Linked DNA regions of Homo sapiens. The protein of the gene in region 1 purifies or fractionates together with the protein of each later gene. This does not show direct contact. Each region holds a gene or a part of one and is shown in the gene's direction. Other genes may lie near its edges.

Region 1 (5,948 bases):
TATTCATCTTCTTTTGAAAATGACTCCTGTCCAGAAGTGTAGCTCTTGGTCGGTACTACCCCTGGCCCAAATGCTGTGTCAATTATAGAAACTGCACATCAGTTTCATGGTGACCAGCTATTGCAAATAAATTAATATTAAGAGATACACATCAATCTTTTAAATAGATTTTCATGGTATAGTGTACCCCAAACATAAAAAATAACTACAAAAAACATCGTTCTGGCATAAGGACGCATGTATGCATATGTTTATCACAGCACTATTCATGACAGCAAAGACATGGAATCAACCTAAATGCCCATCAATGGTAGGCTGGATTTTACAAAGTGGTACATATATACAATGGAATACTATGCAGCCATAAAAAAGAATGAGACCCTGTCCTTTGCAGCAACATAGATGGAGCTGGAGGCCATTATCCTAAGCAAACTAACACAGGAACAGAAAACAAAATACCTCATGTTCTCGCTTCTAAGTGGGAGCTAAACTTTGAGTACATGTGGACAAGAAGAAAACAAGAGACACTGGGGCCTGCTTGAGGTTGCAGGGTGGGCGGTTGGAGAGGATCAAAAAACTACCTGTCAGGTACTATACTTATCACCTGGGTGATAAAATAATCTGTACACCAAACCTTCACAACATGCAATTTACCTGTATTACAAACCTGGATACGTGCCCCTAAATCTAAAATAAAAGTTTAAATAAACAAATACGTAAGTCCTGTAATTACAAAATGGGCTCAAATTTAAAGGTGCTTTAAAGAAGCCATAATTTCTGGAGCCTTTTATTAAACTAAAATCTGCTTGCTCATAAGCAAAGCCCTAAAAAGTAAAAATAAAAAAAAAAAAAGAAAGCAATTACGAGTCTTTTCATCAGCAGAGAATTTATTTATTTTAACTTAAAAATTTCCCTTCAAAGTAAAAGGCCTCCCATAATCTTACTACTGTACAAATTCTATAAAGAAGTTGAGGGGAGTCCTTCTGACGCCCCTCATTGCTAACTCTTGTTTATAGTTGGTGGGCACCCTTCTGGGATTTTCTCCTTGTTTATATAGCTCTCTTATAAAACACATGCTTCTTTTCTTTACAAAAATGGAATCATGCTATACATATTAGTCTGCAACTTGCTTTTAAAATGTATTATAATATGGACATATATCTAGGTCAGTATCTTATTCTGTTTGATGGTTGAATTGCATCCCATTGTTTGGAGGTCCCTTAGACCATTTCACCATTTGTCCACTTAAGTGACTGGGCTTTTCCAATGTTGCTTTTACCAACAATGCTGCAAAGAATAACATTGTACATATACGCTAATCCTGACATGCCATAATTTTAAAAAGATAGCGACCTAGAAGTGAGACTACCGGCTCATAGTGCAAGTTTATTTTATTTTATTTATTTATTTTTTGAGACATGGTCACACTCTGTTGTCCAGGATGGAGTGCAGTGGCACAAACCCAGCTCACTGCAGCCTCGACCTCACAGGCTCAAGCGATCCTCCCATCTCAGCCTCCTAAGTAGCTGGGGCTACAGGCGCGCACCACCATGCCTGACTAATTTTTTCACTTTTTTGTAGAGAAGGGGTCTCACTATGTTGCCAGGGCTGGTCTCGAACTCCTGGGCTCAAGTGACCCTCCCACCTTGGCCTCCGAAAGTGCTGGGATTACAGGTGTGAGCCACCACACCCAGCCACAAGTTTATTTTCCATTTCAATAGCCTCCAATTATTAGCCACTAGAGACTCTTAACTTCCTTGAGTTAGGATCCTTACCAATTTTTGAGCACCTACCATACGCCTGCTATATGTAGCAATGGGGATGAAGAAAACAATCAAAACAAAACAAAAGAAAAAGGTATTTCCCTACCACCGTAGAGCTCTATATAGAAAGAATACAAAAAAAAAAAAGCAGCCAGAAAATAAGAATTAAAATAATTTGTATTGCACATAGTTGGTGTTTAATTCATAAATACCACTTACAAAGATTTATGACTCAAAGACAAGACAAAGTACTTCCATGGGTTGACACAGGGCTGTAAGCAATTCTTTGAACATGAAAGAAGCTGGACACATAGGTCATATTCCACTCCAGTACTCTTCCCAGTCCATCAAACTGCTCTCTTCCAGGCCAATAAGTACTTTCTGAAGTCTTCCTCGAGTCCAACTTCTAGATTTTTATTCCTTCCTCTCCCTGCATCATTCCAGCCATAGCTCCCCTTTGTGTTCATGCAATTAATTTCGTCTGAGTCAAAGGCCTTGTGTACTCTCGCTCGTTCAGAGGGCAAAGGTGTATTCTAGATCCTACCAGAAATAAGTTTCTTAGGAATTTGGTTTTATTTTATAACAAGCTAAGAGATCATGTTTTTGTGTTTCAAACATATTACTTTTTCTAATTTCCTCAAACTTAGATATTTCCCTTTTTAGTTCTTTCTGAGATTAAGCATCTTAGAACTATTCTCTCTTTTGAATCACGGCACCACCTTTAGCTAAGAGAAAAACATCTAATTCTCAGCTACTTCCAGGCATAATTGCAACAAAATCAGACCCAATATTGAAGATTCACGTTTGCTGTGTGTTTTACCATAATAAAAGTTCGAAATTCTGTGAACTCTCTTAATAAAATGTTCCAATTTCTTACACCCTTTCATGATGACGTTCTCTTAAAGGACTAACTTGAAATTTTCAACATTCAGTTAAGCCCATTTCCTTCCTATTAACAATCAGTATTCAATATTGTGGCACGTAAGTAATACTGTAGTTCTGACAGATTAATTTATATTTGCCTTATTAAGAGTCGTTGCTTTTTTTGCTCCCCGACTTAAATTTTTTTTGTTTTTCCCCAATCTATACGAATAAAAGCGTGAACTATATGTGAAATAGCTGAAGCTCCACTTCCATTATAAATAGACAATGTCCCAAATTGCCGTTTTACAAACATTCTCAATAGCATCAGCCAGTGATAGCAATCCGAATACTCCAGAGAGAATGCGACCAAAACCCACAACAAGCCCCGTGGTCTAGCACAGCAAAGAGAAAAAAAGAGAACACGAAAATGCCCTTGCTCCCCTCCGGGGGCCCCTTTTGTGCGGTTCTTGCCAACGCAGCAGCCCTCCTGCTATATAGCCCGCCGCGCCGCAGCCCCACCCGCTCAGCGCCGCCGCCCCACCAGCTCAGCACCGCCGTGCGCCCAGCCAGCCATGGGGAAGGTGAGCCCAGCCTGCGCCCCGGGACCCCGGAGCTTCCTCCATCGCGGGGGCCAGAGACTGGGGCAGGAGCAGGCCTGTGAGACCTCGCCTTGTCCCGCCTTGCCTTGCAGATCACCCTCTACGAGGACCGGGGCTTCCAGGGCCGCCACTATGAATGCAGCAGCGACCACCCCAACCTGCAGCCCTACTTGAGCCGCTGCAACTCGGCGCGCGTGGACAGCGGCTGCTGGATGCTCTATGAGCAGCCCAACTACTCGGGCCTCCAGTACTTCCTGCGCCGCGGCGACTATGCCGACCACCAGCAGTGGATGGGCCTCAGCGACTCGGTCCGCTCCTGCCGCCTCATCCCCCACGTGAGTACATCCTCAAGTCAGGACCCAGGCCCTCAGGACACTCACTGGATGGTTTCAAGCAAAAGTTAAACATTAGAAGTAGTGATCAGTCACAATAACTGAGAGTGGACAAAAGATGAACTATAGTGGATTAAGTCAATAGAGTTTGCTCCCCACATAAGCAAAGTATTACCCAGACACCAGTTAATCACAATTAATCCACAAATATGTATTGAGTAGGAATGTGTCTCCTGCCCTAGGGGTTGTATAAGACTTAAGTCCTATTCTGGAATCATTTAGAATGGAGTTGTAGAAAAACCACTAATACCCAATAGAAGAATAAATGCTAGAGCGTACAGCAGTTACTGAGCAAACAGGGTAATTTCTTTTGAGACTTTTTCCCGTTTTTGCTCCTCTCTTGCATATTTTGGGTTTTCCCAACCTATATAAGTAAGACTTTCCTTCAAAGGAGAGCAACACACATATTTTACACATGTGTCCCTTTTATCCCATATGTGTGTTAGAACACTAAAGTTTATGCAAAATTCGTCCTTGGACTTACTGATGTTTCTTCCTCCATTTTTCTTCATTGCATTCACAAGTTATTGACTTAGAATTAATTGTTCTTTAATATATGAAGATATTTAACATTTTATATTTTAATATATTTTAAATATTTATATTTTAATATATTTAAAACACTTATATTTTGAATAGAAGGCTTATATATTTAACATATTTTATTTATGTCATTGATTTAAATGATGCATTATCATTTAATTCAATATATTAAATGATATATTTAATATATTTTAAATACTTATATTTAAAATACATATTTTTATATTTTAAATATATTTACATTAAATATATTTAATGAATATAATGTATTTAATAATATATTTATTTAATAAATATGTATTTAATATATTTATATAACTACATAAATTATATTATATTTTAAATATATTTAACATATTTTAAATATATTTTAATATATTTTTAATATATTTCATTTACATTATATGTGTGTATATATATATTTTTGTTGTTGTTGTTTTGTTTTTGTTTTTTGAAACAGAGTCTCACTCTGACGCCCAGGCTGGAGTGCAGTGGTGCAATCTCGGCTCACTGCAACCTCCGCCTCCTGGATTCAAATGATTCTCGTCTCTCAGTCTCCTGAGTAGCTGGAGTTACAGGAGCACGCCACCACACCCAGCTAATTTTTGTATTTTTATTTTTATTTTATTTTATTTTATTATTTATTATTATTATTTTTTTTGACGAAGTCTTGCTCTGTTCCCCACGCTGGAGTGCAGTGGCATGATCTCGGCACACTGCAACCTCTGCTTCCTGGGCCCTAGCAATTTTCTTCCCAAGTAGCTGGGATTACAGGCACCCGCCACCACACCTGGCTAATTTTTGTATTTTTAGTATAGACAAGGTTTCGCCATATTCGTCAGGCTGGTCTTGAACTCCTGACCTCAAGTGATCCACCTGCCTCGGCTTCCCAGGGTGCTGGGACTACAGGCATGAGCCACTGCCCCACCCCTTATATTTCTGTATTTTAAATATATTTTATTTATATTTTAGTAAAGTTATTTTAAAATAAAATATAATTTGTAAAATAAATATAATTTTAATTTATACTTATAAAATATAATTTGAATATAATTATTAAAATAAAATATGATTAACTTTAAATAAAATATAATTTTATACATTTTATAATATATTTTAAATATAGTATATAATTAAATATGTATTAGATATCATATGTATATTAAAATTATACATTATTTAAATATATTTCTTTATAATTTAATGTTTATTTTAATATTAAAACATTTCTTCAAAATGGTATAAAATAGTAATAAGCTGTTACAGGTTTGGATTTGCATGTGGTACAGGATACTGAGCCTAGGAGGCAGCTCATCCTAAGAAATAGCTGAATATATTAAAGAGTGAGATTTCCTTCTCAATTTCTTCACCACACTTCATAATCTTGAAAAGGTACTGAATCTCTGTGCTCGGTAATGAGGAGTTTATAAATATTCAGAATTAATTAAATTTTACCATGTATTTCAAAATGGCTTGAGCGGGTCCTCACCAAGCTGGACTGCCTAACAATGCATTGGAATCATTTCACACTTGCTTTTCTTCTCTTTTTATTTCTGGGTCCGCCAGTCTGGCTCTCACAGGATCAGACTCTATGAGAGAGAGGACTACAGAGGCCAGATGATAGAGTTCACTGAGGACTGCTCCTGTCTTCAGGACCGCTTCCGCTTCAATGAAATCCACTCCCTCAACGTGCTGGAGGGCTCCTGGGTCCTCTACGAGCTGTCCAACTACCGAGGACGGCAGTACCTGCTGATGCCAGGGGACTATAGGCGCTACCAGGACTGGGG
Region 2 (5,700 bases), on another chromosome or scaffold:
TTGTTTGTTTTCTAAGAAACAAATCAAGGCAGTTTAAGTTAGCAGCATTTTCCTTTATGACTAAAAGGTGGGTTTTCATAACGTTTTCTTAGGATGATGAAATAGAAAGTGAAGCAAAAAAAGAATCACTTTCTCCCGGAAAATTGAAACTAACTTTTGAAGAACTGGAGCGACAAAGACAAGAAAACCGAAAGAAGCAAGCTGAAGAGGAAGCAAGAAAACGTTTAGAAGAAGAGAAGCGTGCTTTTGAAGAAGCAAGGCGGCAAATGGTAAATCTACATATTTAAACCTTACAATTAATATTAATGAAGTTAGCCGACTTAAGATAAGGTTTACTACTACAAATTCAAAGAGATTTTACATATAGAAGGGCTGATTTTCTAATTGTATTCATATTTCATATATAAAATACATCTAGGCTAGGCACGGTGGCTCATGCTGTAATCCCAGCACTTTGGGAGGCCAAGGTGGGTAGATCACCTGAGGTCAGGAGTTTGAAACCAGCCTGGCCAACACTGTGAAATCCCTGTAATCCCAGCTGCTTGGGAGGCTAAGGCACGAGAATCACTTGAACTTAGGCGATGGAGGTTGCAGTGAGCTGAGATCACGCCATTGCACTCCAGCCTGGGTAACAGAATGAGACTGTCTCAAAAAAAAAAATCCATACTGTTTTCCAGTTTTCACTCTGGGGCATTTTACCCAATATGCTTTAAATTTTTATTTTTATACATTGTTATTAATGTATAAATATGCAAAATAATTACTCAATGAACCTGGTTTCCTTCATCTGTTAGTTCAATCTGCAAAGTACTTAATGACATGGGTGCGGGACTGATTATAAGTGTAAACTTGTCCTCAGCAGTCCAGTTTTTCAACTGTTTGAACATATCAAAATAACAGTTTACGGTGGAATATGCAGTTTGTCCTATTAAGTGTATGTGTGTGCATATTTGTGTGCATGCCTCTGTGTGTGTGTGTCTGTGTGTGTGTGTGTGTGTGTGTGTGTGTGTAGTGTGGTTAAGAGCATGGATTGTGGGGCCAGATTGTCTAGATTCAGATATCAGCCATTTACTAACTGTGTAACCATGGACAACTGTTTTAATCTCTCGCTGTGTTAATTAATTAAATCTCTCTTAGTTTCTTCATTTTTAAAATGGTAAAAATGAAAGCGCCTACTTCTTTTTTTTTTTAACTTCCACAATGACTTGGATTTTTTTTCAATGCCTATTTCTTAAATGGTTAAACAAGTTAATATCTAGGAAGCACTTAAAATGGTGTTTGTTACATATACTAAGTTCTTTGAAAATGTTAATTATTACTATGGTATTAATAGATTTATCAACAGAAAGTAAAACTGAAATAAGAAAACACTGATTCCAAACCTCGTTTTAAGATTTAAAAATGCGCCAGGCATGGTGGCCATGCCTGTAATCTCAGCACTTTGGAAGGCTGAGGCAGGCAGATCCCTTGAGCCCAGGAGTTTGAGACCAGCCTGAGCAACATGTGGAAACCATGTCTCTACAAAAACAAATACAAAAATTAGCCAGGTGTGGTGGCACAGACCTGTAGTCCAAGCTCCCCGGGTGCTGAGGCGAGAGGATTGCTTGAGCCCGGGAAATCAAGGCTACGGCGAACTATGAATGAGCCACTGGACTCCAGCCTGGGTGACAGAGTGAGACCCTGTCTCAAAAAAAAAAAAAAAGGATCTAAAAATGGAATATTTGTAATTTTAAAGTTACAGAACTTTCTTGATCAGCTTTCTTGAATGATGTTCTAAGAATTATATATATAAAAATTTAATTTTCTAGACATTTATTTGAAAATGTTATTACTCGGGTATAGCTGCATAATATCTGCACATTTTAGATATTTCTGGTGGTCAACTTAATAAAGAAATAGTATTGTTAAATAAATAATACATTTCAATTGATATTATAGTAAATTTAATAATAAACCTTTAATGATAAAATCATAAAGCTGGAATTTTACATAAAATAGTTCTAGATAATAATCTTTTATCTGATTAGTATAAGGTACCATAGTTCACAGTAAAAAAAAAAATACAAAAATTACAAAATGAGAACATTATTTTACTACCAAAGAGATTCTGTGTAGATATACTTGAACCCCAATTATAGTACACACATACGCATTTTATATTTGTTCTGGGAAAGTTAATACTCAACAGTAACCCCTCACTGCAGCCTCAACCTACTGGGCTCAAGGGATCCTCCCACCTCAGCTTCTCGAGTAGCTGGGACTACAGGCACACACCACCACACTGGCTATAATGTGTTTTTTGGTTTTTAGTAGAGACGAAGTCTTGCTATGTTGCCCAGGCTGGTCTTGAACTCCTGGGTTCAAGTGATCCTCCTGCCTCCTAAAGTTCTGGAATTACAGGCGTGAGCCGCCACAACACCTGGCTAAAAATGTTTTAATATTCAATTTTATCTATAGAAATTTGGCTTATTTGAGAAGTTTTATTTAACCTGAGTACATCTTTATATGGAATTTCTCCAAATTTGAATATTTTATCATAGAAGACATTAAAAAGGAAGGGGATTTAGGTCAAGTATATTAAGGGCATTGAAACTCCTGTGTGATAGTGGCTAATTCTGTGCCTTTTGATTAATAATTCATTCCTTTTTCTGATGAACCTCAATTCTTAGTAATGAATTGTTTATTTGGTTAGGTAAATGAAGATGAGGAAAACCAAGACACAGCAAAAATTTTTAAAGGGTACCGCCCTGGTAAACTCAAACTCAGTTTTGAAGAAATGGAAAGGCAAAGAAGAGAAGATGAAAAAAGGAAAGCAGAAGAAGAAGCCAGAAGGAGAATAGAGGAAGAAAAGAAGGCGTTTGCTGAAGCAAGGAGAAATATGGTAAGACAGAAGCTAACTGGAGAATGCTATTAGAATTCACCTTTGAGAATATGTTAATAGAATCATTAGACTTTAGAGAATACCCTATTATTTCTGGAAACTGTGCCAAGAGTAGAAATGGCAAATATGTTTTAAAGTCTCCCATGGAATAACACCAGTTGGTTGAAGGTATTTGCTTCAATTTAGTGTTCAGAAGATTCTGCTTTAAATTGCCATGCTTGGCACAAAGGATGGAATATTATCTCCCTTCTCTGGGAAGGCATGTTTTCCAGAACTAAGTATCCAAGGAAGAAGAAGAAGTAGGGAGTTTCCTCCCTCAACTTTTCTTTCTTCCTCTCCATTCTTTCGCCACCTCCTTCCCATACTCCCTTTCTCCCTCCTTCATTCCTTTATTTCCTTCCTTTCCTTCTTTCAGTTTTCATCCCACCTACTATATATTAAATGACCTGAGTCATTTAATCAGAATTATTTCTCTCTTCAAAATGCTCACTCATCACTCCTGGAAATTGATACCTAACTTAACTGTCACAAGGTTATGACTGTACTTCCTATACCAGTTTTATGTTTGTACAATGTACAGTTATCTGACAAACAATTTTGAAGCAATTTGAGACTAGAGCACTGCATCTCCTTCTTGAAACACTGTAATTAGCTTTGGTGATATCGTAACCTGGTTTTCTTCCTCTGTATGGGTGAGCATCACACACATATGTCCAAGTGTTTATTTGGCTTTATTGCCCACACAGATACTCAAATCAGAAACGTGGAAGCCTGAAACACTTCCATCTTCTTATTCATGCCTGATGTCCAACCAGTCACTAAGTCTCGTTTATTCTACCTCCTAAATCACTATGAAATCTGTCAGTTTTCCCCCCATTTTCACCGCCACTACTATAATCCAAGTTACTGTTACAACTTGCCTGGGGCCAACTCCTCATTAACTTGCTTTCTTACCTGTAACCTATTCTTTCCTGTAAGGCCAGGAGTGATCTTTAAAAAGAAAGAAATTTTGATTGTGTTTTGTTACTGTTTTGCTTAATATTTCCCCACTTTTCTTAAGCAAAAATCCAAAAACTTCTAAAACAAATTTCTTTATAGTCTTGCTCTTGTATATTGCTCTCGTTTCATTTCTTGATTCTTCCTGAATCTGCTCTTTGTTCCAAATATGCTGAATTTGTTTGTATTTCTTCAAAGTGAGACTCAGCCTTCACACTGTCTGAAAGATGTCCCTCACTCCTTTCCCTATGCTCTGCTAACTCCAATTCATAACTTTCCATTTCCTCTGGAAAGCCTTTCCTGATAATAAACACCTTCCATGAATTCTTACAGCATTTAGTACTCTTCTATCATAGCGCTAATCCTGTATTGTTACCACTTATGGCTGTCTTTTCCACTCCATGAGGCCAAGACTGTTCATCAAACATGTGGCACAATGCTTAGCGTAGCAGACCTCCAATAAATGTTGATGGAACAAGTGATATTGAAATCTTACGTGCAGTAGGTAATCCCTGATTCATAAATGGTTTCTACATAGAAGTCCTACAGACGTTGTGAATGCACTTAATTTTTGGAGAATAAGCAGGTTTAGAAGCGGTAGAAGAAGCCGGGCGCGGTGGCTCACGCCTGTAATCCCAGCACTTTGGGAGGCCGAGGCGGGCGGATCACGAGGTCAGGAGATCGAGACCATCCTGGCTAACATGTTGAAACCCCGTCTCTACTAAAAATACAAAAAAAAAAAAAAAAAAAAAAAAAAAAAAAAATTAGCCGGGCGTGTTGGCGGGCACCTGTAGTCCCAGCTACTCAGAGGCTGAGGCAGGAGAATCGCATGAACCTGGGAGGCGGAGCTTGCAGTGAGCCAAGATCTCGCCACTGCACTCCAGCCTGGGGGACAGAGTGAGACTCCGTCTCAAAAAAAAAAAAAAAAAAAAAAAAAAAAAGAAGCGGTAGAAGAGAAGTAACTGTGAAGATTACTAGACCTAGTCCTTGGGGCAGATTTGTAGGCCAATACTGCCTTTTTACCATGATTCACTAGCGGAAAAAATGCAGGCGAGAAAACTGCATTAAAACAAAACCAAGTTTCCTAAAGACATTTCTAAAGAGAAGAGAGAAAACCTTCCTCTTACATTTATATTGTTTTCTTATCCACAAATAAGTATTGTAATTTATCCAGGAATAAGTATTGTAATTTCATACCATAGCTTAGTTCATGCATATGTAAAATTTAAAAATTTCAGGCAATCTTTGAATTGTAAACCACTTAAACATTGTTTCTGAGTTGAAATAGTTCTGTGGTAAAGCCTGGATTACCTTGATAAAACTTGGAGCAAATGAATAATACCCCTTGCCTCTCTCATTCCCCTGTGTGTATTTCAACCACAGAGTCACAGTTCAGGCCAGAGGGTTATGTTATACCGCGCCCGGCCTATAATCTTTTGTTTTTTTTGAGATGGAGTCTCGCTGTCACCCAGGCTGGAGTACAATGGTGCAATCTCGGCTCACTGCAACTTCCACCTCCTGGGTTCACGTGATTCTCCTGCCTCAGCCTCCCCAGTAGCTGGGATTACAGGCGCCCACCACCACACCTGGCTAATTTTTGTATTTTTAGTAGAGACGGGGTTTCACCATGTTAGTCAGGCTGGTCTCGAACTCCTGACCTCATGATCCACCTGCCTTGGCCTCCCAAAGTGCTGGGATTACAGGCATGAGCCACTGTGCCCGGCCTATAATCTTATTAGAAATATTTTGAAGTTTGAATCCCAGCTTTGCCACATAGTATTTGTGTTGACTTTAGACAATTACTTTTCAGTGCCTCAGTTTCT
Region 3 (6,411 bases), on another chromosome or scaffold:
AAAACCTGCTAATAAGTAGTTCTGATTTTCTCTCACTTATATTTGTTCAGCTTCCATTGATGGAGTACCTATTGTAGTCCTGGATATTGGGTTCCATACCAGATCCTCAGGGCCAGCATTCTACTGCAAAAGGAACCATGTTTACAAAAGTGGAGTGAGATTCTTCCTTGGGTCTTTTTGTCACTTAGTAGCCAAAGCTGTTATTAAACCAACCAGACCAAAATAAAAAATCATCCAGGAAGTAATTTATTCTATACTTTTCAACATGTCATCCTTTTTTTTTATCATGTTATCTAACATATAGGGAAGATTAATTATAATATTTTAGATGGAGCCTATTGGAGAAATGAGTTTCCTAGACTAGTCACGTCATATATGATTTTATAACCCAAAACACCAAACTCTAATGGCATTAAAATCTTGCAATGGGAGGTTTATCAACACTAGCTAAATCATAGTGGATAGCCTAGTAGCCTGGAAATCAAGACACTAGAGTAATCATGGTAGCGCATTAATTAGTTATGTAAATGAGGGCATGCTACTCAAGTTCTCTGAGCTTCAGGAGAGAAAAAAAATACTTGATTGGTACCTCATGGGGCTGTTGTAAGGAACAAATGAGATAGAGTATGTGGCATGATTTGTATTATAGAGCATACAATCCAAATATGAGCTAGATAAGGCATAAAACGTGCAAGTACTACATACAGTGTTTCTAATTATATTACAGCTTTCATCTACGTGGTGTTCCACATTTTATATTTAAGCAAGAGCTTATAAGATTGACTCTCTCCCAGTTATCACAACTAATGAACTCTTAATGGGCAGCTACAAATATAGATTTTATCGGAAGGAGGAAATTAAAGTGATCAAGGAATTATTTTTTCTCCCCTGACATGTAAAAAGTAAAGAGACTGCTAATTAGAAAATATTTAGCTGTTCTTTATAAGTACCTGAATGGTCTGAATTTTCTGAGTATTCATTCTTCATTCAGATATAGGAAATGAAAAGTCAAAACCTTCTCTAAATATTGTCATTCAATGGATGTATCTCCTGGGCAAAAATGTAGTTAATTTTGTTTGTTAGAGCCATATACTAAGTGCTAGGTTTCATAGACAAGAGGCACAAACTGAGGTGCTTCCTTGCTTTGGTTTTGTAGTATAGCATATTTAGAGCACATCTAGAATAATGCTGTAAAAAGGAATTGCCTGAGCTAATAATATTATAAGAAATTGTTTATTCTGTTAATACAAGTACATAATTTTCTGCAACTCAGTTATTTGCACTCAATTATTAACTCCTTGAACATGACTTCAGCTAATGACTGCCACTCTGAAGAGATAAAATAGGATTAATGATCAAACTCCTTTATTTCTAAGGAGTGATTACATATGCAAATGAAAGGAGTAGTAGCATTTCAAATAAGTTCCACCAGAGAGTACTTTTCCTTAACCAATATCCAGGTATGTTAATGGGTACCTTTCCTTTAGAATGTTAACTTCGGGGTCCTAACTTAAAATCTAGGTAGCAAAATTAAAGGTGGTAAGAGCCAGGCTAAAGAGGACTAATTGAATTCTCTCTGTGGCCTTTGCTGTTAATAGTTCATTTTCTTTGTGTCCCACTTTACTCTCTTTTTCTTTTAGCCTTTTTATTTAAAGACTTAAGTATTTACCCTTCGAAAATCAGTGTCGTTTCTGGTGGGGAGAGAAGGTATTCACAGAGATGAGTCAGAGGCACATACAAATAACTTGTAATACAAAGTTAGATGTTAATGAAAGAAAAGGAAATGTTTATCCTACCTCATCCACAATACTAGTAAACTAAGTACTTACGATTTTTTAACTGTTTGTTTCTTCATTTGTGTAGCCAGACCTTGTTTCTTTTCCCCAGCTATCGTCAATTTGCTGATTAGGTAAATTCCTCACTGGTCTTTCTACAGGTTTCAAAAAGGAACAAGGTAGATTTTCAGAAACTGTTTTGGGTTGAAAATTATATATTAAAATGAAAATGATATAGTACCTGAAGACTGCTAGTAAATTTTGCTACAGTAAATTTATGATAGTTACCTTCTGTTGCCTGTAGTTGAACTGGAAACCTGACTTTGTAGGTTTTTTGTCCTTGGTTTCTAAGATCTGTCAACTTTTGATATACCCTCCTCTATATCTTTGGTCATCTAACTTCCCAACATGCATACACATAAATAGTAAATACAAATTAGTGATTTTTATAATTATATTGCAGGAAGGTTGTATGCTTTTCGGATGTTGGATTTTTATAGCGCCTTCATCATCTTTAGTGTTGGTTTCTTCCTTTGACTTTGTATATTTCTCCTAAGCCCCACTGATTTCTTGGTTATTTCTTGGTTACAGGCTGTCATGGTGGTCACCTGATCCTTACCTGATGTTACTGGTTACCTTGAGATTTTATCAGTGTCTGTGGTCTCTTCATCAGTTCTCTCCAAAGGTTTCTCTCACTGATTATCTTTCAATATTCTTAGACTTGAATGAAGCAGTCCCAGAGACAGAGCGCCTGGATTCAAAAGCACTGAAAACTCGAGCCCAGCTCTCTGTGAAGAACAGACGCCAGAGACCCTCTAGGACAAGACTGTATGATAGTGTTAGTTCCACAGATGGGGAGGACAGTCTAGAGAGAAAGGTGAGCACCCTTGACCGTTTCCTGATTTGTACTGTTGGAGTATATCATTGTTCCTACAGCTTATTGAAGATTATGATTTTTCTGCAAACAGAGTCTATGTCCTAGTTGGTAAGCAGCTAGAATAGTTCACGTCTTTGTCTCCTGAATTCTTTATATTGTTGTAATTCAAAATATTTTGTCTATTCATTCAGTGAACTAACCAAGAGCATTATCTGTATTGTCATATTTCATGATGGTGCTTTTGATATTCAGCTATTGGTTTTACTTAGTGGGAAATAATGAACGTACAAGTAATTGTTTCTGTAGGTCTTAGGTATATGTATTAGTGACGATGTTAATATGGTGAATTGGTATGAACCATGCATTCTCATCTGTAAATCAACAAAAACTGGTTTTCATGGGGATTCACTAATAAAAGGTTGGTCTTATTTCAAAGTAAGTATTGCATAGAACTGATACTCAGTGGCATAACCTTCCTTATAATCTCTTATACCAACAGCCATCAAACAGTTTCTATAACCACATGCATATTACCAAATTACTTCCACCTAAGGGTTTGAGAACGTCTTCTCCAGAATCAGATTCTGGTGTTCCACCCCTCACCCCGGTGGATAGCAATGTGCCCTTCTCGTCTGACCACATAGCTGAATTTCAAGAAGAACCACTGGACCCAGAAATGGGGCCTCTCTCCTCTATGTGGGGAGACACTTCACTGTTTTCTACTTCAAAGTCTGATCATGATGTGGAAGAATCTCCTTGCCATCACCAAACCACCAACAAGAAAATATTACGAGAAAAAGGTATTGTTAATTTCTTTTTCTGACTTCATAACACCTCAGCTTGTACAGTATAAAAATGACTTTTTCTCATAATCATAAGTCATTTGTTTTCTCATAGCTAATAATTAATATTAATTTCTTTTTATATTATAGAATAAGAGAAACAACCCCTCCATGTATTTTACTTTAATTTAGTTTTATCTTTTCCTATCTGGTTCAGTATTTTTATCTCTTCAGCTCTCTATAAGTTTACTACTCAAGGGAGTTCTTCAGGGGAGTGGGGCAGCCCAGAGTTTCAACAAACACTAACACAGTCATAAAGAAAAAAACACTACATAGTCATATAGAAAAATATAGAGCGATTTTGTAGAATAGCAGCCCAGAGTTTCAGTAAACACTAACGTAGTCATATAGGAAAAAAAGACGAAGATCAAAGTAACACAGGCATATAATTGATACTTAATAATGTTCTTGGATGAATTGCTAATATACCTCTCCACGTAACCAGTGCAGATCTTCTAGAAGAGGGATAATCAACCGAATGTAGTCTCCACCTGCTTTTGTAAATGAAGTCTTATGGGAGTACAGTCACACTTTTTTACTTACATACTATCTATTTTCATGCTACAGTAGCAGTGTTGAGTCGTTGTGACAGAGACTGTGTATCTCACAAACCTAAAATATTTTACTCTGTGGCCCCTGAAAGGTAAAGAAAGCTTCCTGATGCCTGGTCTAGAAGTATATTTTCTTATACTCAAAATTGCTGGATAAACTCTGAAAATGGCTTCATCATTGGTTGCCATTTATCTAGAATTTTTAAAAAGTGTTATACCTTTACTTTTGGTCTATCAAGTTACCACAAAGATGATTAATTACAGCCATGTTTGATTGCAGGCTTGAGGATAAGGCTCTGGTTACCCTAACAGGAGTTGGCGATTTTCTGAATTGTGTCAATACCACATTTACAAATCATTTTTTTTCATATCTGAGGGACATCAGTGGAAATTAGGATGGAGAAGTCCCATTATAACTGGCTAAATGATAAGCATCTAACGGAATATCAAATTAGAGGAAGTAAAAGATTTTTTTCTAGAGATTTGTAAAACAGGTTATATGCCAGTAGAAGGCATGAAAATATTTTCCTCGTTCCTGTTATATAAACAACCTAATACTAAAGTTTTGGTCCCGAGGCTTACATAGCACTGGGCCTTTGTTCAGTCAAGATTAAATAAAGTAAATTGAACACTATCAATTTTCTACTCACAATTACTAGAGATTATTATTCTAATTTTTTGTGTGGTTAATAACACATTATTTGACCCAGAAGATGTGTTCAAAAATATTCATTGAATTAATGTCTAGTAAATAGAAACTGGCTTTTTTAAAGCTTTACAGGATTTATTGCTTATTAAAAGCATTGGGCCTCTGCAAGTATAGATAGAGTACAATTATATCAACGCTCAGAAGAGAGAGAGATTGCGTCCAGCTGAGGTTGGTAAACAAAACCTATCCAAGGAAGTACAATTAGAATAGCCATCAAAGCACTTAAGGGAAAAAAAGGGTAGGTAAGGAGGGAATAGCGGGTAAAGTGATGTCATTAACAGAGACAGGCACATATCATATGATTTAAAGGTACAAGGCTATCCCAGCCTGGCTGTAGCAGTTTGCTTATGCAGGGTGGAGTAGTTACACACAAAAGTGAGCCAGTAGGTTAAGTATATAGCTTTAGAAGTTAAACATCTTAGATAACTTGCCATATTACTAGGAAACCACAAGAAGTTTGACCAGAGGAATAAAAAGGAAAAGACACCACCAGGTATGGAGAAGCTGAGTTAGGAGACCCTATGAGGTGGTGCCCTCTAAAGAGGAGCAGTAGACAGTGACAGGAAAGAATGATTCAAGGACCCTTGAGACATACCTTGACTAGGTAACAGGTAAGAAAGTGAGGCAAAACTATCATGGGCTTCACGCCTCAGAACATATGGTCTTGTCATTAACAGAAAATAGGAAATCAGCAACATGATGGGGGAAATAGGATTAACTCATTTTTTTAACAGAGGAGGTCATGAGCGCAAGAGAGAGGTCAGGACTGCCAGGTAGATTTGGGAGTCCCCATTATAAAGGAAGAGATAGTCAAGTATCTTATTACAGTGAGATTAAGGAGATGCAGTCCAGTACAAGACCTTAGGATTTGGCCATCAGGAGATCATTTATTATTTGAAAATGAAAACCAGGTTGCCACAGCTTAAAGTTGAGGCACCCAATCTGGGGGCTCAGATGTATAATTGGTCACAAAGGTAGTATTGGAGAGATTTTAAAAAGCCTAACAGAAGTCTTACGTAGAGCTAAATAAACAAAATGTATGTTTCTTTTTTCCTGAAATCATACCAATCTAATGTTGGATTTTATGCAGACTAGAAGTTCTAGTGTGCATTAAAGATGGATTTAATCGATTTTAAATGGGAAAGTACATTATTCCTTATTCTTAACATCTTCAGCCCTATGGAAGCATTCATTTCAGTGTTCCTGGGAACGCACTTTGGCAAATGTGTGAGATAAAGATGTAAGGTTGCCTAGCACCAAGCTCTGTGATAGGCAGAATCAGGCTTTTAGTCGCATGATGTCCAAATAACTGCAACACTCATGGGTTACAGAGTGTTTTCGTGTACATTGCCTCAGCTGGTCTTCTCAGCGCTCATTGTAACATCTCCCAGCTACCTCTCATTCAGGAAATAATTAGGCAGTCTCCTTTTAACTTTGCATAGTCCTAGCCATTAAGAGTTGCTTTAGGATTGATCTGGAAGAATTTGGCACTTTCTTTTCTTCAGCTTCTATTAAGAAAATTTAAATCTTGCTTTTAAAAATAAAATCCATTAGTAAAATCACCTTAGAAGGTGTTTGTGCCATGTCTATGTCTATGGATTTTTTTATATGATTGTGTCACATCTGTGACAATTCAGTTACCCAAAGAGTAATGATG
Region 4 (6,411 bases), on another chromosome or scaffold:
AAATAAAGTTTGTTTTGTTTTTAAAATTGTGGTACAATATAGATAACATAAAATTTACTCTGTTGACCTTTTTTAAAAATATTTTTATTATGGTAAAATACAGTCATTTGTTGCTTAATGACAGGAATATGTTCTGGGAAATGCATCATTAGGTAATTTTGTCAAGCAAACATCATAGAGTATACTTACACTAACCTGGACAGTATAGCCTACTACACACCTAGACTATATGGTATAGTCTGTGGTTCCTGGGCCATAAACTTGTGCAGCATGTCACTGTACTGAATACTATAACTGTAGACAATTATAACACAGTGGTAAATTTTCGTGTATCTAAACATAGAAAAGATACAGTTAAAATATGATATAAAAGATTAGAAAATAGGCCAGGCATGGTGGTGTGCACCTGTAATTCCAGGTACTCAGGCTGAGGTAGGAGGATCACTTGAGATCAGGAGTTCTAGGCTGTAGTGTGCTATGAGCACATCTATGAATAGGCACTGCGTTCCAGCCTGGGCAACATAGTGAGGCCCCATCTCTTAAAAGGGCACACGTGTATAGGACAGCTCCATTATAATCTTATGGGACCACTGTAATATGTGTAATCCATTGTTGACTGGAACATCCTTATGCAGCACATGACTGTGTACATAACTTAAAATTTATCATTTAAACCATTTTTAAGTGTACAATTCGGTGGTATAAAGTACATTTACATTATTGTGTAACTATCACCTCTATCCATCTCCCTAACTTTTTCATCATCCTAAACAAGCTCTGCCCATTAAACAATATCACCTCATGCCCATAGCCCTTGGTAACCATTGTTCTACTTTTTGACTCTATGAATTTGTGTACTCCAGGTACCTCGTATAAATGGAATTATGTAATATTTGTCTTTGTGTCTGGCTCATTTCTCTTAGCATGATGTCTTCAAGATTCATCCATGTCATAGCATGTATCAGAATTTCATTTGTTTTAAGGCTGAAAAATATTCCTTCGTATGTTTATACCATATTGTTTAATCATCTTTTGATAGATGGGTTGTTTCCATCTTTCTGCTTTTGGGAATAGTGCCACCATGAATATGAGTATGCAAATGTCTGTTTGAGTGCCACATTCAATTCTTTTGTGTATGTACCCAGAAGTGGAATTGCTAGTAATTTGATAATTACCAAATTTCATTTGGTAATTCTATGCTTAATATTTTGAGAAACCACCATACTATTTTCCACAGTGGCTATACCATTTTACATTACCACCAGCAATGCACAAGGGTTCCAGTTTCTCCACATCCTTGCCAACATTTACTATTTTCTGTTTTCTTATTGATTGATTTTTATTTATGTTGAGCCAGGGTCTCACTCTGTCACCAAGACTGGAATGCAATGGCCCGACCACAGCTCACTGTAGCCTTGACCTCCCGGGCTTAAGTGTTCCTTCCCACCTCAGTCTCTCGAGTAGCTGGGAGTACAGGTGTGCACTGCCATGCCTGGCTAATTTTTGTATATTTTGTAGAGATGAGGTCTCTCCATTAGCCCAGGAGGGTCTCAAACTCCTGAGCTCCGCCAGCCTTGGCCTCCCAAAGTGCTGGGATTACAGGTGTGAGCCATTGTTCCTGGTCCCGTTTTCTTTTTTTTTTCTTTTTTCTTTCTTTCTTTTTTTTTTTTTTGAGACAGAGTGTTGCTCTGTTGCCTAGGCTAGAGTGCAGTGGCGCGATCTCGGCTCACTGCAACCTCTCCCTCCTGGGTTTAAGCGATTCTCCTGCCTTAGCCTCCCAAGTAGCTGGGACTATGGGCACCCGCCACCACGCCCGGCTAATTTTCGTATTTTCAGTAGAGACGGGGTTTCGCCCTATTGGCCAGGCTGGTCTCGAACTCCTGACTTTGTGATCTGCCCGCCTCGGCCTCCCAAAGTGCTGGGATTACAGGCGTGAGCCACTGCACCCGGCCTGCTTGTGCCTGGCCCTGTTTTCTAACACAAAAAAATCGATTATTTTTAAAATAAAATCTCTAATAGGGTGGTATTTCACTGTGGTTTTGATTTGTATTTCCCTGGTGATGGGTGACATTGTGCATCTTTTCTTTTTCTCTTCTTTTCTTTCTTTCTTTCTTTTTTTTTTTTTTTTGGAGACAAGATTTTGCTTTGGCACCCAGGCTGGAGTGTAGTGTCACAATCATGCCTCACTGCAGCCTCGACCTCCTGGGCTAAAATGATCCTCCCACCTCAGCCTCTCCAGTAGCTGGGACCACAGGCATGTACCACCATGTTCAGCTGATTTTCTTTTCTCCTTCTGTTTCTTTTTTTTTTGAGACAGAGTTTCGCCCTTGTTGCCCAGGCTGGAGTGCAATGGCGCTATCTCTGCTCACTGCAACCTCTGCCTCCCAGGTTGAAGCGATTCTGCCTCAGCCTCCCAAGTAGCTGGGATTACAGGCATGCGCCACCATGTCCAGCTAATTTTGTATTTACAGTAGAGATGGGGTTTCTCCATGTTGACCAGGCTGGTCTCGAACTCCCAACCTCAGGTGATCCGCCCACCTCAGCCTCCCAAAGTGCTGGGATTACAGGCATGAGCCACTGTGCCTTGCCTCTTTTTTTTTATATTTTGTAGAGACATGTTGCCCAGGCTGGTCTCCAACTCTGGGTTCAAGCAACGTCCAGGCTGGTCTCCAACTCCTGGGCTCGAGCAATACTCCTGCCTCAGCCTCCCAAAGTGCTGGGATTACGTATGTTGAGCCATCATGCCCGGCTGAGCATCTTTTCATGTGACCATTTTTGTATCTTCTTTGAAGAAATGTCTACTTATGTCTTTTATCTTTTTAATTGGGTTTTTGTTGTTGCTTAGTTGTAGGAGTTCTTTATATCAATCCTTTATCAGCTATGTGATTTGCAAATTTTTTTTTATTCCGTGGTTTGCCTTTTTACTTTTTGATAGTGTGCTTTGATGTACACAGTTTTGTTTTTATTTTATTTTATTTTATTTTATGTTATGTTATTTTAAGATGGAGTCTTGCTCTGCCCAGGCTGGAGTGCAGTGGCCCAATCTCGGCTCACTGCAACCTCCGCCTCCTGGGTTCAAGCTATTCTCCTGCCTCAGTCTCCTGAATAGCTGGGATTACAGGCATGCGCCACCATGCCTGGCTAATTTTTGTATTTTTAGTAGAGACGGGTTTTCACCATGTTGGCCAGGCTGGCCTTGAACTCCTGACCTCGTGATCTGCCTGCCTTCCAAAGTGCTGGGATTCCAGATGTGAGCCACCGCGCCCTGCCCAGAGTTTTTAATTTTGATGAAATCCAACTTACCTTTTCTTTTGTTGCTTCTGCTTTTGGTATTATGTCCAAGAAATCATTGCCAAATTCAATATCATGAAGTTTTTCCCATATATTTTCTCCTACGAGTTTTATGGTTTTAGCTCATTTGTTTAGGTCTTTGATCCATTTTGAGTTTTTTCTTCTTTCTTTCTTTCTCTTTCTTTCTTTCTTTCTTTCTTTCTTTCTTTCTTTCTTTCTTTCTTTCTTTCTTTCTTTCTCTTTCTTTCTCTTTTCTTTTCTTTTCTTTTCTTTTTTTTGTGACAGAGTTTCTCTCTTGTTGCCCGGGCTAGAGTGCAATGGTGTAATCTCGGGCTCACTGCAACCTCCACCACCTCCTGGGTTCGAGCAATTCTCTGGCCTCAGCCTCCCGAGTAGATGGGATTACAGGCACCTGCCACCACGCCCAGCTAATTTTTGTATTTTTAGTAGAGACAGGGTTTCACTGGTCAGGCTGGTCTTGAACTCTTGACCTCAGGTGATCCGCCTGCCTTGGCCTCCCAAAGTGCTGGGATTATAGGCGTTAGCCACCATGCCTGACCCCTGAGTTAACTTTTCTATATGGTATAAGGCAGTGGTCCCCAACCTTTTTGGCACCAGGATTCAGTTTTGTGGAAAGCAATTTTTCCATGGACGGGGGTGGGGTGGGTGGGGGGGTTGGTTTCGGGATGAAACCATTTCATCTCAGATGATCATCAGGCATTAGATTCTCATAAGGAACGCACAACCTAGATCCCTCACATGCACAGTTCATTTTTTTTTGTTTTTTTGTTTTTTTTTTTGAGACAGAGTCTCGCTCTGTCACCCAGGCTGGAGTGCAGTGGTGCAGTCTCGGCTCACTGGAAGCTCCGCCTCCCAGGTTCACGCCATTCTCCTGCCTCAGCCTCCCAAGTAGCTGGAACTATAGGCGCTCACCACCACGCCTGGCTAATTTTTTGTATTTTTAGTAGAGATGGGGTTTCACCATGTTAGCCAGGATGGTCTCGATCTCCCGACCTCGTGATCTGCCAGCCTCGGCCTCCCAAAGTGCTGGGATTACAGGCGTCAGCCACCGCACCAGGCTGGAAGACAGTCTTATATAATGTAACATAGTTATGGGAGTAGCATCCTGTATAACCTTTGCCATATTCTGTTGGTTAGAAGTAAGTCACAGGACCCACCTACATTCATGGGGGAAGTAATTACACAAAGGTGTGAACAGTAGGAAGGGCGATTAGGGTGGGGAACCACCTTAGAATTTGTCTACCATAACTGATTACAAAATAGCATGTTTTAGGAACTTTTTTTTTTTTTTTTGAGACGGAGTCTTTTTCTGTCATCCAGGCTGGAGTGCAGTGGCATGATCTTGGCTCACTGCAACCTCTGCCTCCCACATTCAAGCAATTTTCCCGCCTCTGCCTCCCATGTGGCTGAGATTACAGGCGCCTGCCACCATGCATGCCTGGCTAATTTTTGTATTTTTAGTAGAGATGGGTTTCACCATGTTGGTCAGGCTGATCTCGAACTCCTGACCTCAGGTGATCTGCCCACTTCAGCCTTCCAAAGTGCTGGAATTACAGGCATGAGCCGCCATGCCCTGCCATATTAACCAATTTTTGTTTAAAAAATAATGTTATTAAAATAGGAGTATCTTCGGATGGTGGGACTTACTGGTGGTTTTATTGTTATTTTGTATTTCTTCACTATTTCATCCCACTTTCCCTCCCTGCAACATTCCAATTTTGAAATTTTAAATCAATAGTTGGTGTTTTCATTATAATGAAATAAATATTGTTTACTGATCAGCCATGTGGTATATCATACTTGTTTCCTTTCTTGTTTAACTTTGTTTTTTCAGGGAGTTAAAATTTGCCTTTTACATTTACATAATTTTCTGTTTACCTGTTGCTTTCCCCCTAAATGCGCCAACAGATTTTTCAAGAGTCTTCATCTATCTATGTATCTATCCATCCATCCATTCTAGCTTATAACATCAATTTATAAGCTATAAAACGAATTTATTTTGCATAAAATTAGTTGTGAACTATAGAGAAATATAAAACAAAAATACAGTTTTAGGAAGAAGAATACATGAACACCTGTGGTCTCACTACCTAGGTCAAGAAATTACATGTTACATTTATCCTAGAAGTTTCCTCAAGATATCCTTTAATGGCACCCCCTCCCTTCCAGGAAATCACAAGCCTATTTTAACATATTAGTCATTCTCTTGGGACCATTCTCTGCTCAAGCCTGCAATATCCTCCATGTCCATACATGTATTTTTGGCCAAAATTTTTAATTTTGAAAAACCAAAAAGCTCTACTACCTCTCTAAGTCTGTTAGTCAGGATAGGCTGAACTACTTTAATGAATAATTACCAAATCAGTGGTTTTTAACACAAAATTTATTTCTCACTCACATCTTTGCTGTGAGTTGAAAAGCAGTGACAGAGTGGTGGTCTGTTCCACAGAGTCATTGAGGGACTCAGGCTGCTTTCAGCTAGTGATTCTGCCACCCACTGGGGCCTCAGAGACTTTGAATTTCCTGCATCTGGCTGGCAGATGCGAGGACAAAGAGAGGGACTGTGGTAGATTGCATGGAAAGTTTGATGGGCCAGGCCAGGATGTGGTATACATCAGTTTTGTCCGCATTCCACTGGCTAGAACTGAGTCAAATGGCTACACTTAACTGCAAGGAAGGAAAGGGAAAACGCCTTGGTCAACAATGAGCCAATCTCTGCCATGGTATGTATCCCTAAGAAATATATCATTTTGTTTTGGAAAACTGAATAGCAAGCATCAACTGAGGCTGTGAAAGGAAAGGTACATACTGCTGCTATTAGATGAAAGCTCTCAGAAGATAAGCTGAAAAGAGTCTTCCTTGATCTTTTTTGGATAAGTCATTGGGAAAGTTTGTTATTGAGTCTGGAGAAACACAGGCTCCCCACAGTCAGGGAATCTGGCAAAACTAAAGTGTTTACAAGATACTACGGTAAATATCTAGAAGAAATGTGATTGGGAGAGTAGATTGCTCTATGTGGTTTTGCTTCTAAGCTAAGCTTATCACGCTTTAGCTCTCAAGAATAAGGAAAAGCAAAACATGTCTGTGCTGTGAAATAAG

Evidence for each region.
Region 2: the proteins of CRYGD (region 1) and NEXN purify together in Homo sapiens (affinity purification with mass spectrometry; one large-scale study listed by BioGRID and IntAct). This does not show direct contact.
Region 3: the proteins of CRYGD (region 1) and PPP1R9A purify together in Homo sapiens (affinity purification with mass spectrometry; one large-scale study listed by BioGRID and IntAct). This does not show direct contact.
Region 4: the proteins of CRYGD (region 1) and LRRFIP2 purify together in Homo sapiens (affinity purification with mass spectrometry; one large-scale study listed by BioGRID and IntAct). This does not show direct contact.

What each region holds. Positions count from the first base shown.
Region 1 is NC_000002.12:208,121,725-208,127,672, reverse strand, and holds the start of CRYGD (gamma-crystallin D), read left to right. Parts: upstream 1-3,148; 5' UTR 3,149-3,199; coding exon 3,200-3,208; intron 3,209-3,318; coding exon 3,319-3,561; intron 3,562-5,727; coding exon 5,728-5,948. UniProt on the Homo sapiens protein: Crystallins are the dominant structural components of the vertebrate eye lens.
Region 2 is NC_000001.11:77,926,624-77,932,323, forward strand, and holds part of NEXN (nexilin), read left to right. Parts: intron 1-92; coding exon 93-269; intron 270-2,692; coding exon 2,693-2,881; intron 2,882-5,700. UniProt on the Homo sapiens protein: Involved in regulating cell migration through association with the actin cytoskeleton. Has an essential role in the maintenance of Z line and sarcomere integrity.
Region 3 is NC_000007.14:95,266,056-95,272,466, forward strand, and holds part of PPP1R9A (neurabin-1), read left to right. Parts: intron 1-2,494; coding exon 2,495-2,652; intron 2,653-3,151; coding exon 3,152-3,452; intron 3,453-6,411. UniProt on the Homo sapiens protein: Binds to actin filaments (F-actin) and shows cross-linking activity. Binds along the sides of the F-actin. May be involved in neurite formation. Inhibits protein phosphatase 1-alpha activity.
Region 4 is NC_000003.12:37,162,915-37,169,325, reverse strand, and holds part of LRRFIP2 (leucine-rich repeat flightless-interacting protein 2), read left to right. Parts: intron 1-6,411. UniProt on the Homo sapiens protein: May function as activator of the canonical Wnt signaling pathway, in association with DVL3, upstream of CTNNB1/beta-catenin.